3 linked regions of the Homo sapiens genome follow. The protein of the gene in region 3 interacts with the protein of the main gene of each other region in a biochemical or structural test. Each region holds a gene or a part of one and is shown on either strand. Other genes may lie near its edges. The genes, in order: LRRK1, SRPK1 and C11orf52.

The links.
Region 1: the proteins of C11orf52 (region 3) and LRRK1 form a complex in vitro, tested with the Homo sapiens proteins (one large-scale study listed by BioGRID).
Region 2: of the proteins of C11orf52 (region 3) and SRPK1, one has a biochemical effect on the other in vitro, tested with the Homo sapiens proteins (one large-scale study listed by BioGRID and IntAct).

The regions. Positions count from the first base shown.
Region 1 is NC_000015.10:101,062,287-101,065,934, reverse strand, and holds part of LRRK1 (leucine-rich repeat serine/threonine-protein kinase 1), read right to left. Parts: intron 3,362-3,648; coding exon 3,245-3,361; intron 2,534-3,244; exon of another isoform or gene 584-2,533; coding exon 1-583.
Region 2 is NC_000006.12:35,883,009-35,886,656, forward strand, and holds part of SRPK1 (SRSF protein kinase 1), read right to left. Parts: intron 1-3,648. UniProt on the Homo sapiens protein: Serine/arginine-rich protein-specific kinase which specifically phosphorylates its substrates at serine residues located in regions rich in arginine/serine dipeptides, known as RS domains and is involved in the phosphorylation of SR splicing factors and the regulation of splicing.
Region 3 is NC_000011.10:111,917,390-111,921,809, reverse strand, and holds the start of C11orf52 (uncharacterized protein C11orf52), read right to left. Parts: upstream 2,898-4,420; 5' UTR 2,838-2,897; coding exon 2,806-2,837; intron 1-2,805.

The sequences.
Region 1 (3,648 bases), on a different chromosome or scaffold from region 3:
CCTGGTGGATCAGGATCTGCGTGCCCAGCTCCTCACTGTACATGATGCTCACGTCCGCGATGGAGTCCCCCTCAGGCACCTTTGGGTTGGCCGTGTGGCTGGCTGCCGGGGGTTCCGTGTCCAAGGGCCGCACGGGAAACATGTCCCTGAGGGGGCTGGGGACCCCGCAGAAGTACCGGGCACACAGCTGGTAGGTGGTGGAGTGGTACATCACCAAGGAGTTGGCCTTGTCATCCAGGCACCAGACGACCTCCTCCCCTCTGCCCTCAGAGCTGCACACGACTGACGTAACCATGGAGGGGGCCATGTAGGGCTCCAGCCGCCTGCAGATCTCCAGGGAGGCACAGTCGATGACAAGGAGGCCCGGCCCATTGCTGTACCAGACCTCAGAGCCGCTGTTGACCACCTCCATGGCCTTCACTGGGTAGGGGTTCTGCCGTGCGTCTTCATCCGCGATGCTGAACTTGGACCTGTTGGCTGTGTGTGAGCACAGGTAGGAGCAGCTGTCCTTTGGGGTGCCCCGCACCACGGGAAACACAGCCACAAGCCCATCGGCGAGGCCCGCTAAGACCAGGTAGGAATTCTGAAGGAAGGAGACAGGGATGTGTCACATCCTTCCATTTCACACATTCCAAGAGAGACACAGAGTAGGCACTGGACTCATCTGCACCCACACCAGGCGGGCAGTCACTTTCCACCAGTGCGCCTCAGGGCAGCAAATCTCTTAGAAAGGCCGGGGCTACTCCTAAAGAAGTGCAGCTCTGACTCCGCAGAGCCATATCTACCATCCCTGCAGCAAAGAAAGGAATGTGCCACCCAGAGGCAGGGCCTGTGGCACCAAGTAAGGCTGCGTGTCACCTGGACCACATGGGCTGCCTCTGCTTCTGCCAGCTTCTTGCAGGGCGAGCAGCAGGGAGCTGCCTTCTCCTTGAGGCCACCAAGGCCTCCTTCAGAGGCAGGACCTGGTGCCCCCGCCCTTTTCTCGGTGCTGCTTAACATGACAGCAGTGGGGGCATGGCAAGCATCTGTGCACTGCCCCCTGCCTGCCACCCCCCCCACCAGGCAGAGTGTTCCATAAGGATGGGCTCCCAGCCCACCAGCATCCCCGTGGCACTAGCCTGGCACAGGGAAGGGCTCAGTCTCCTTCATCTTGGTGGCCCTGTGACTCCACCTGGCTCCTGCTCCAAGTGGATGACATGTGTTTGCTGAACTAATTCTGGAAGAAATCGCTTCCTACTCAACCCTCTTCTGGAGGCCTGTCTCAGCCTGCTGAGCCCTCATCCCAGCTTACATCTATCGAGATGCCTGTGGTTCAGCTGACGTTGACAGGGTCCTCAGGGTGCCCCCCACCCCCTCAATGAAGCATGAGCTCTTCTACACCCGCCAGAGGTCACCGGGCAGAGGCCAAAGTTGCAGGGACCTTGCTGAATGCTGGGCCCACCCCAGACCGCCCCGGGGCACCTCCCAGGGCAGAGCCAGGAACAGAGTGCAGCTCCGCAGCCTAGACACCGCGTCGGCTGTGGTGGGGGTGGGAAGAGGTCTGCAGAACAAAGCTGGAGTCAGGGCAGAGCAGGGAGCTGGGCCTCATGCCAGTGAGGGGGCAGGGCAGAAAGCCTCCTTGTGGGGAGCTGGGGGAGCTCAGGAGGCTGGCTGTGCAGGGCAATGGAGTGGAGACCCGTAGCTCACTGTCCAGGACAACATGCTCTAAGAAAGCGTATCGAAATCCATCCCCAGGACTTTAGGGAAAGAAGGCAGCCAAGGCAAACAGGCTCCAGGTCTCTATCTGCAGTCCTGGCTCAGGCCCCGGCCAGGGCGGTGAGTGCCACGTCCCGGCTGGGTGTGAACGTGGGTGCGCGTGCAAGAATGCAGGCTTCGCGCTGGCGGCCTTGGAGGGGGCAGACACCCTGCCCAGGAGGCCCTGCACAGAGCAGGCTTTATTCCCTCTGGTCGTGCAGGAGGTGGTGCCCTGGCTGGGGGCTCTCGCCAGCGGTGGCCTCAATAACACTTTGTGTCGTGTTCTCCTGCGCTCTGGTACGGGCCTGGTCCCAAGCTGCGTAGCCTCGCTGTGGGGCCATGGTCATAAATGACTCTAAGGTTCATTTCATACCTGTTTTTTTTTTTTTTAAATGAAACTGAAGAAGGGTGAAGAGAAGAGTTCATGTATTTTGCGACCATCCAGAAGTAATAATAATACTCATTTACCAAGCACACCGGCCTAGACCTTTGGGTATGCTAGGCCTTCTGTCTCTTCTTATACCTGTTTTGTAGATGGGCAAACTGGAATTGGATGATGACAGTCACATTTTAACAAAGCAACACCAGTAAAGGCTTCTTGTGCATTTAGTGAGGGCGCCTATGCACAGACAGGCCCCTCAGGGTGGATGAAACCAGAGCTGGCTGAGCCGTGCCTGAATCCTGTGGGCGGAGGAGCCCGGAAAAGCCAGGGAGCTGCCCCCCACTGAGGGGCAGCTTCTCAAAGGAGGGGACAAGGCCCCGGGTCTTGAGAACTGAATCGGAGGCCGTCTGGGAAGAGGTGCGTGGAGGGGCTGTTCCTGGAGGAGGCTGGGATGTCAAGGGCCCAGCACAGAGTGGGGTGCTTTGTGGGGAGGGTGCCGGGCCCAGCAGGGACTGGAGGCCAGCCTCATAGAGGCTGGGGCTAATCCCAAGGTGCAGCACAGCTGGCTGGGCCTTTAATGGGGAGAGTGCCCCTTGGGGTCTCATTTAGAAAGGCCAGGGCTAGGAGGTTAAAGAGCTGAGTCTGCAGGGCTATGCTGCACAAAGAGAAACTGCGTCTGGTGTAAGACGGCGAGTACTTGGCGGGAGGCAGAGATGGAGGGAGGGAGATCAGGACCTCCAGGACCTGGTGATCAAGTGGCTGTGAGGTGGCTCTGGCCTGGGCAGGTGGGGAAGAGGCTCCGGATAGGGGAAGGGCACACGCATGACTGCTCACCGTGCCATTTGTACCAACAGTCCTTCCACCTGAGTCAGGGCATTTGCATGTGAAAGGGGGTTTTTCATTCGGCCTGCAGTCTGGCTGGGGACTTGACTTAGGTTTTTGCAAACCGGAAGGCACTAATGACGGACCAGGTCTGATATCTTTCCTCCCACCGTCTCTAAGTCTACGTCCTAGGCCAGGTGGTCCTAGGTGTGGCTCTGCAGGCGCCACCCTGACATAGCTAGGAGACGCCTCCTAGGCGTGGAAGTGCATCAGAGACCTGCATACCTGCCTTTGCCCCGACCTCACCTTTTTAATAACAGGCACGGCCAAGAAGCAGGTGACGACAGCTGGAGTATCCAAGGCCTGTTGGGGTGTGTTTAAGGGGCACATGCCCTTGAGGGTGTAGATGTAGATTTTCTGGTCCTGCAGAGGCAGACAGGTCCACTGTGAGACCCAGGCTGGAAAGTGTCTGGCATTTCCCAAGCCATTCCCATGAGGATGCACTTGGACTTGGGGATCCCCTATGGGTCTTGGAAAGTTACATGGATTGACACGTTCTGGTGGGTTGTTTATGGATTTCTGCTCTTTGTAGAAACGTTGAAAAAGACAGACTAGTCTAAAGAGGAAACAGAAAATAGCCCGTCATCTATTCCCCAGAGAAAACCAACATTGGGATCTGGGGGCACAGCCTCTCAGAAGTTCTCTGTGGT
Region 2 (3,648 bases), on a different chromosome or scaffold from region 3:
ATGTTGGCCAGTCTGGTCTTGAACTCCTGACCTCGTGATCCGCCCGCTTTGGCCTCCCAAAGTGCTGGGATTATAGGCGTGAGCCACTGCACCTGGCCAGGAAATTTTTTTAAACAAGCAATTAAATAGGCTGGGCATGGTGGCTCATGCCTTCAATCCCAGCACTTTGGGAGGCTGTGGCAGGTGGATCGCCAACATGGCAAAACCCCGTCTCTGCTAAAAATACAAAAACTAGCTGGGCGTGGTGGTGTGCATCTGTAATCTCAGCTACTCGGGAGGGTGAGGAAGGAGAATCGCTTGAACCTGGGAGGCGGAGGTTGCAGTGAGCCGAGATTGCGCCATTGCACTCCAGCCTGGCCAACAAGAACGAAACTCTGTCTCAAAATAAATAAAAATAAAAAAGCAATTAAATAAAAAAAATTATCAAAACAAGATTATTTAAAATGCAGATTACTTAAAAAGACTAAACATAAAATAGGATTGTAAAGCTATTCTCTTATGTTTCTAGCTTCCATCTGCTTAATTTTTATTTGTTGAGAGAAGTATTACAATTTGAAAATGTTTTAATTTGTAAGCAGTGATATTAAAATGACCAAACATATAGTAGCTTAAAAAAAAACTTGACAGAACATCATAATCAAGTGGCAAAAAGGAAGAGCCAAATAATTTGAGTGAAAGAAAGCTAATGAGTAGCAATCAGAAGCACTAGTAATTGAAATCACAAGGTTATTTTTTTTTTTTTTGAGGCGGAGTCTTGCTCTGTCGCCCAGGCTGGAGTGCAGTTGGCGCTATCTTGGCTCACTGCAATCTCCTCCTCCCAGGTTCACGCCATTCTCCTGCCTCAGCCTTCTGAGTAGCTGGGACTACAGGCGCCTGCCACCACGCCCAGCTTTTTTTTGTATTTTTAGTAGAGATGAGGTTTCACCGTGTTAGCCAAGATGGTCTCGGTCTCCTGACCTCGTGATCCGCCCACCTCGGCCTCCCAAAGTGCTGAGATTACAGGTGTGAGCCACTGCACCCGGCCCACAAGGTTATATTTTTAAAAAAATCTAATGGGGAGACAGTGTAAAGAAAATAACAAAAGGCTGAAAATAAAAGGCTTATGTTATTGAGTAAGCACATTTAGGGCACATTATGAATAAGAGGAGCTAGCAAAACAGACAGAATACAGCATGAAAAAAAAAGTATCCTAAAGACATAGGAGGTCATATAAGCAGACAATAATGACTGGCTAATGTCAACATTATATAGAGAAACCAACTGTCCTCCTTCTTAATCATTCTTTTCCCCTCACCCTCCAGGCAAGTAGAGTGAGCCAGTTTATATGGAATTCTGTAAGAACTAACTTTCTAGTTTAGGGCCCTTTATATTTTAATATGAGAAACGATAGTGGTCCAGAGAAAAAAACGCCTGAACAAACATACACACGAATGTGGATGTACTGCTCTGTGTGGGTATGTTATGTTGGGAAAACGGGTAGAGGCAGGAGAGTGACATGAGCCATTACTAACCCTTAACATAGTGTTTTGAGTTATATCCTTTCAATCTCTAACAGTAGTAAATAATGCAGGAGCAAAGACAGCTGGGAGATAAGGATGAAGAAAGACAGGAAAAAATGGCTAAGAACAAATGGAGAAAAGAATAAAATAGGGAATCAATGGACAGAAGCTACAGAGAAACCACCTAGCAATGTTTGAAAAATATCTTGGGGGCCGGGCACGGTGGCTCACACCTGTAATCCCAGCACTTTGGGAGGCCGAGGCGGGCAGATCACCTGAGGTCAGGGGTTTGAGACCAGCCTGGCCAACATGGTGAAACCCCATCTCTACTAAAAATACAAAATTAGCTGGGTGTGGTGGCATCCACCTGTAATCCCAGCTACTCGGGAGGCTGAGGCAGGAGAATCACTTGAACCCAGGAGGCAGAGGTTACAGTGAGCCGAGATTATGCCATTGAACTCCAAAAAAGAAAAAGAAAAATATCTTGGAACTTGAAATTCAAACCTACTAAGATATTTCAATAGTTAAAAAGCCTTCTTTGCTTAGTTAGGGTCAAATAAAGGTACTCAGCATTACTGGGGAGATTTGAGAGTATTTCTATAGTTTTACTTGGAACTTTTGCAAATTAGTAAAGAAATCTGGCACAATGACAAACATTACAAGATTAAATAATAGAAAAAACAGATATGGCCATCACGACACCCTGTGTAGGTTTTTAAAAAATTACTTGGTTTAGAATTCTTAATTCTTTGAACACACACACACACACACACACACACACACACACACACAGAGAGAGAGAGAGAGAGAGAGAGAGAGAGAGCCATCTACAAAGTGACCACAATAAGCACAAGATACTGTTTTAAGATGGTTGCAGCAGTTTTCCTTAGACATCTGGGTAATCTGTGATTTGTATTTTTCTAAGAAATGACTCAGAATTGACTTTAGAACAATAGTCTTTCCACATTATCAGCTGTTCTCTCTCCTTTCCCATCCCTTCCTTCCTGCTTCTCTGTTCAAATCTCTTCCCATAGTCTACATGAAACTAGTCATATGTAGTCCTGTCTCCTTTAAATACAAAAAGATCAACAGCAATTAGGAATGTGCATTAAAGGAAGCTAAACATGCATGAAAAGTAAAATAATGTATGAAATGTCTTTATACATTTTAAAAACAGCTTATAAACAGGTGATTTTAGATTTATCCAATCTAAGTAAGATTCGACTTCATCTTTTACTGAAAAATCTGATTGACCTTTATAAGCACAGCTGTTGCAATAACCTTTCCATTAGCTCACCGCACGTCACTTTGATACCTGTGAAGAAAATCAGCTATGGTTCCTTTCAATTCTACAGTTCTAAAACATCCAGATAAAAACATAAAACAAGTCAGTTTTTCATTATAATAGAATGTGAACAATTACACCCTTTTAGACTCTAAACATAAACTACATTCACAGCCTCTTCAAAGTTGAGGCTTAGTATAATAAATACAATCATACCTTAAATTGTTCATCCAGTTTCTTTCTTCCTTTCTTTTTCTTTCTCTCTTTTTCTCTTTCTTTTAGACAGTATCTTTTTTTTTTTTTTTTAGACAGAGTCTGGCTCTGTCCCCCACGCTGGAGTGCAGTGGGCTCAATCTCGGCTCACTGCAACCTCTGCCTCCCCAGTTCAAGTGATTCTCCAGCCTCAGCCTCTCCAGTAGCTGGGATTACAGGAGCCTGCCACCATGCCCAGCTAATTTTTGTATTTTGGTAGAAACAGAGTTTCACCATGTTCGCCAGGTGGGTCTTGAACTCCTGACCTCAGGTGATCCACCTGCCTCGGCCTCCCAAAGTGCTGGGATTACAGGCTTGAGCCACCGTGCCCGGCCTACTCAGTATTTTTCATAAGAAATTACTTCCCTTAAAGTTTCTGTGCTAACTGACAAAAATCATAGACTCTTTACTTAGTGATACAACGCATTTTCTAAAAGTTTCCTTTGATTTCGCTTTAATTTGCCTGAAAAGAGGACAAGAAGCTTAAAGCAATATTCTGAAAAATCACACCACACAAAATTAGACAAAATTCAGATGTGTGTTCAGAAGTGTACAATAAAAGAGGTAATTTTATTATAGTTTGCCTTAGAAAAGACACCAAGGCCATCTACA
Region 3 (4,420 bases):
GGGATTATTGTAAGGATTAAATAAAACAGGAAATGTAAAATACTTAGCATGGTTCCTAGCATATAATAAGCATGAGTAAAAGTTGACCACTAATGACTATCACCATCAGAGAACTAATCAGTAATGAAAAAAGAATACCAACACTTGGGAAGAAAGAGAATAAAAGAAGCTGTTACATCTCCTTCTCTAGAAGCTTTTCTGTGCTTCTAGATGTCCTATGTCTATAGGGCACCTCAGAGTTTAAAGGGTGCTTTATTTTTTCAATCCTGACATTCCAGGAAACACATATTTTTGTTCCCATTTTACAGACGGGTTAATGAAGGGCCTTTTTTACTAACTTAATAAAGAGTAAAATTTTCCATGATGTTAGGTGTTCTTCCAACATTCTTTATGAAGTGGCTACGTATTTCCCATTAATTGGATATGCCATGTATTTAGACAGTTACCAAATGTTGGACCTTCAGGGTATTTCTTACTCAACAAGGCAGGGACCAAATGTCCTTTTATTACTATGTCTTCTGTGTCTATCACTGTGCCTGTAGTACATGTTCAATAAACACTGTTTAATAAATGAATGGATAAATGAATGAGTAGTAGGGCAGGACTTGAATCCAATGTACTACTCCAAAACCTGTGTGTTTTCCAATGCACTTCACTTGTCTATCTAAATATAATGATGCTTTATTTATAACATGACATCTTCCAGATCTGCCCCAGGCATGGAAGGCAGTAGACAGAATAAAACCAGGACCAGGAATTTACGGCATGGCAGTGATGAAAATTCTGGGAAAGAATAGTAACAACCCCACAGATAATTTATTATGAGGTTTTCACATACGCTATATCCTTTGCTCTTCAAAATAAGCCTGTGATCTACACAATGTAGGATGTATTATCTACATTTTACATGTGAGGATGGATACAGAGAAATTAAGGGACTTATTACCTATGGTCACATAGTAAATAAGTGTGAAAGTCATATTCAGATATTCCATGGATATTCTTCTTTTTCCTACTTCTGCCCTTTTATTTTTATTTTCATTTTTGAGACAGGGTCTCATTCTGTCACCCACACTGGAGTGCAGTGGTGTGATCATGGTTCACTGCAGCCTCTACCCCCAGGGCTCAGGTGATCCTCCTGCCTCAGCCTCCCAAGTACCTGGGATTACAAGCACGCACCACCACGCCTAGCTAATTTTTAATTTTTTTGTAGAGATGGGGCCACCCTATGTTGCCCAGGCTGGTCTCAAACTCCTTTTCTTTTTTTTTTTCAAGACATAGTCTCGCTCTGTTGCCCAGTCTGGACTGCAGTGGCGCAATCTCAGCTCACTGCAACCTCTGTCTCCCAAGCTTAAGGGATTCTCGTGCCTTAGCTTCTCAAGTAGCTCAGATTACAGGCGTGTGCCACCATGCCTGGCTAATTTTTTTGTATTTTTAGTAGAGATGGTGTTTTGCCATGTTGGCCAGGCTGGTCTTGAACTCCTGGCCTCAAGTCATCTGCCTGCCTCAGCCTCCCAAAGTGCTAGGATTACAGGTGTGAGTCACTGCATCCGACCACTTCTGCCCTTTAATTTATTTTATTTTATTTTATTCTATTTTATTTTATTTTATTTTTGAGACGGAGTCTTGCTCTGTCACCCAGGGTGGAGTGCAGTGGTGCAATCTCGGCTCACTGCAAGCTCCGTCTCCTGGGTTCAAGGGATTCTCCTGACTCAGCCTCCCGAGTAGCTGGGACTACAGGCACCCACCACCACGCCCGGCTAATTTTTTGTATTTTCAGTAGAGATGGGGTTTCACCGTGTTAGCCAGGATGGTCTCGATCTCCTGACCTCGTGATCCACCCGCCTCGGCCTCCCAAAGTTCTGGGATTACAGGCGTGAGCCACCACGCCTGGCACTTCTGCCCTTTTAAATAAACATTGCTTCAAAGTTGACTTGCTTGATCTAAGAGGCAATATTATGCAGTGGTTCAAAAGGTGGCCTCTGAAGTCAGGTGGGCCTCAGTTGGAATCTTGGTTTACTTGCTTACCAGCCATGTGACCTTAGGCAAGTTAGTTAATTTCTCTGAGCCTCAGTTTCTCAGCTGACTGTAAAATAGGAGGAGGGGCAAAACCATTTACCTCATAAAGTATTGGAAAAATTAAATGAGACTGTAAAATGTCTGGCACATAGAAAGCTCTCAAGTGCTACAATTATTACTCTCATCCAGGAAGAAAGGGAAAGAAGGGGAAAGGGAGGAAGAGGGCACAGAAAAACAATGCCGGTTCAATATTCCTGCCCTGCTCTGGCCATTCCGCAGACAGCTAGCTTGGCTCTGTTTTTTTTTGTTGTTGTTGTTGTTGAGACAGTCTCGCTCTGTTGCCAGGCTGGAGTGCAGTGGCGCGATCTCGGCTCACTGCAACCTCCGCCTTCCGGATTCAAGCGATTCTCCTGCCTCAGCCTCCCGAGTAGCTGGGACTACAGGTGCGCGCCACCATGCCCAGCTAATTTTTGTATTTTCAGTAGAGACGGGGTTTCACCATGTTGGCTAGGATGGTCTCGATCTACTGACCTCGTGATCCGCCGGCCTCGGCCTCCCAAAGTGCTGGGAGTAGAGGCGTGAGCCACCGCGCCCAGCCACTTGGCTCTGTCTTCTAAGGCCTCCTGAAAGGAGGTGCTGCTCTGGTGTTGGAACAAGGAGGTACCAGGCAGAGGAAGGTGGCAGTGGGAGGCTGGCAGACAACTATCTCCAGGTCCTCTGATTTTCGGGGCCTCTACATCCACCAACAGAGATAGATGTTCCCCTTTGCCCTTCCAGCCTACTCACCAGCTTCCTCCGCAGCAGACCCGGTTTCCCATGGCGCTCTGTCTCCAAGGGAGCCCAGCTGTTTTTATGCATCAAGAGGCTTGTGCATTTCCGGGTTCCTGGTTGAGCTTTCCGCGGCAGCTCCCGGAGTCTGTGTCAGTGTCAGATTTCAACCTAGCAGGTTGGACTTTTGAAGCCACCTGCTGGAATGATTCCCAGGTGACTGTGTTCCCAGCCAAAGGGTAGAACAACACACGGGCTCCAGGTGAGAGCTATCTCAACTTCAGGATTTGAAGCGTCTTTTGATGAAGCCATGAACTTGAGCTTCAAGCTTCAATAAAAAGAAACCTGAGATAGAAAAGGGCTCTTGGTTTCCTTACGAAATGCTTCTCCATTACATCACTCTGTCTTTGAAATATATCCTCTATAATAGATGAGTGCCTAATGTAGTAGTTTGCTCAGCACCACTCAGGTTTAACTGAGTTTCACTTTCGAGGCAATTGGTACCAGTTTCTTATTATTTTTGTACAGAATCTGGGTTGGGATACTGGAGTCTCTTGGAAACTTAAGTTTGGGGAAATGGGTTCCTCATATATTCTCCCTTGCTATTTGAAATCGATGTGGGCAAATCACTTAACCTTTATAGGGCCTAAGTTTCTAGGGCTGTGAAATGAAAAAAACTGAATCTAATCCCCTTTCTGGTATAAAATCAGATGATTCTATGATCAGGATGGCCTCAGCACTTCTTAACCACTCATTTCCTTATCCACAGTTCAGAACTACTGATTCTCCACTTACCCCTCAACTCTGCGTCTCCTTCCAGTAACCCAAAGTTAGACTCACCCGCACTCACCAGTAGAAAATATGGGCTCTACGAGAATCTGTGAAACCCATCATTCTTGTGTTCAGTTCTCTCACCCCATTTTTAGTGTTTTCCTCGGATGCCTGGTTATTGTCCTTTAAGTGGATGTTCAGGGCCCACCACTCAGCTCTGCACTCCACAGAGAATACCCTGGACTTTGAACTCCTCCTCTTATGAAACATGGGTAAGAGTGACAATCTTACAGGATTGTGGTGAAAAATAAAGCTCTAGTGCAGGGCCTGGCACATGGGACACACTCAGTAAGAGTTAGGCATTGTTGTTATTATTACAAAGCATCTTATTTTCTTTCTTTCTTTTATTTTTAAAGACAGGGTCTCAATCTGTCACCCAGGCTGGAGTTGAGTGGCTAGCTCACTGCAACCTCAAACTCCTACGCTCAAAAGATTCTCCCCCCTCAGCCTCTCGAGTAGCTGGGACTACAGGCTCACACCACTGTGCCTAGCTAATTAAAAAAAAAAAAATCTTTTTAGAGACAAGGTCTTTTTTTTTTTTTTTAAATTAATGTGAGATGGGGGTCTTGTTATGTGGACCAGGCTGGTCTCGAACTCCTGGCCTCAAGCAATCCTCCCATCTCAGCCTCCCAAAGTGCTGGGGTTACAGGTGTGAGGCACCACACCTGGCCAAGATAGGGTCTTGCTATGTTGCCCCTGCTGGACTTGAACTTCTGGCCTGAAGTGACCCTCCCACCACGCCTGGTTCCCACATCTTACTTTCTTTTCTTGTGCCCCAATCATTGCACTATTTCATGGCCAT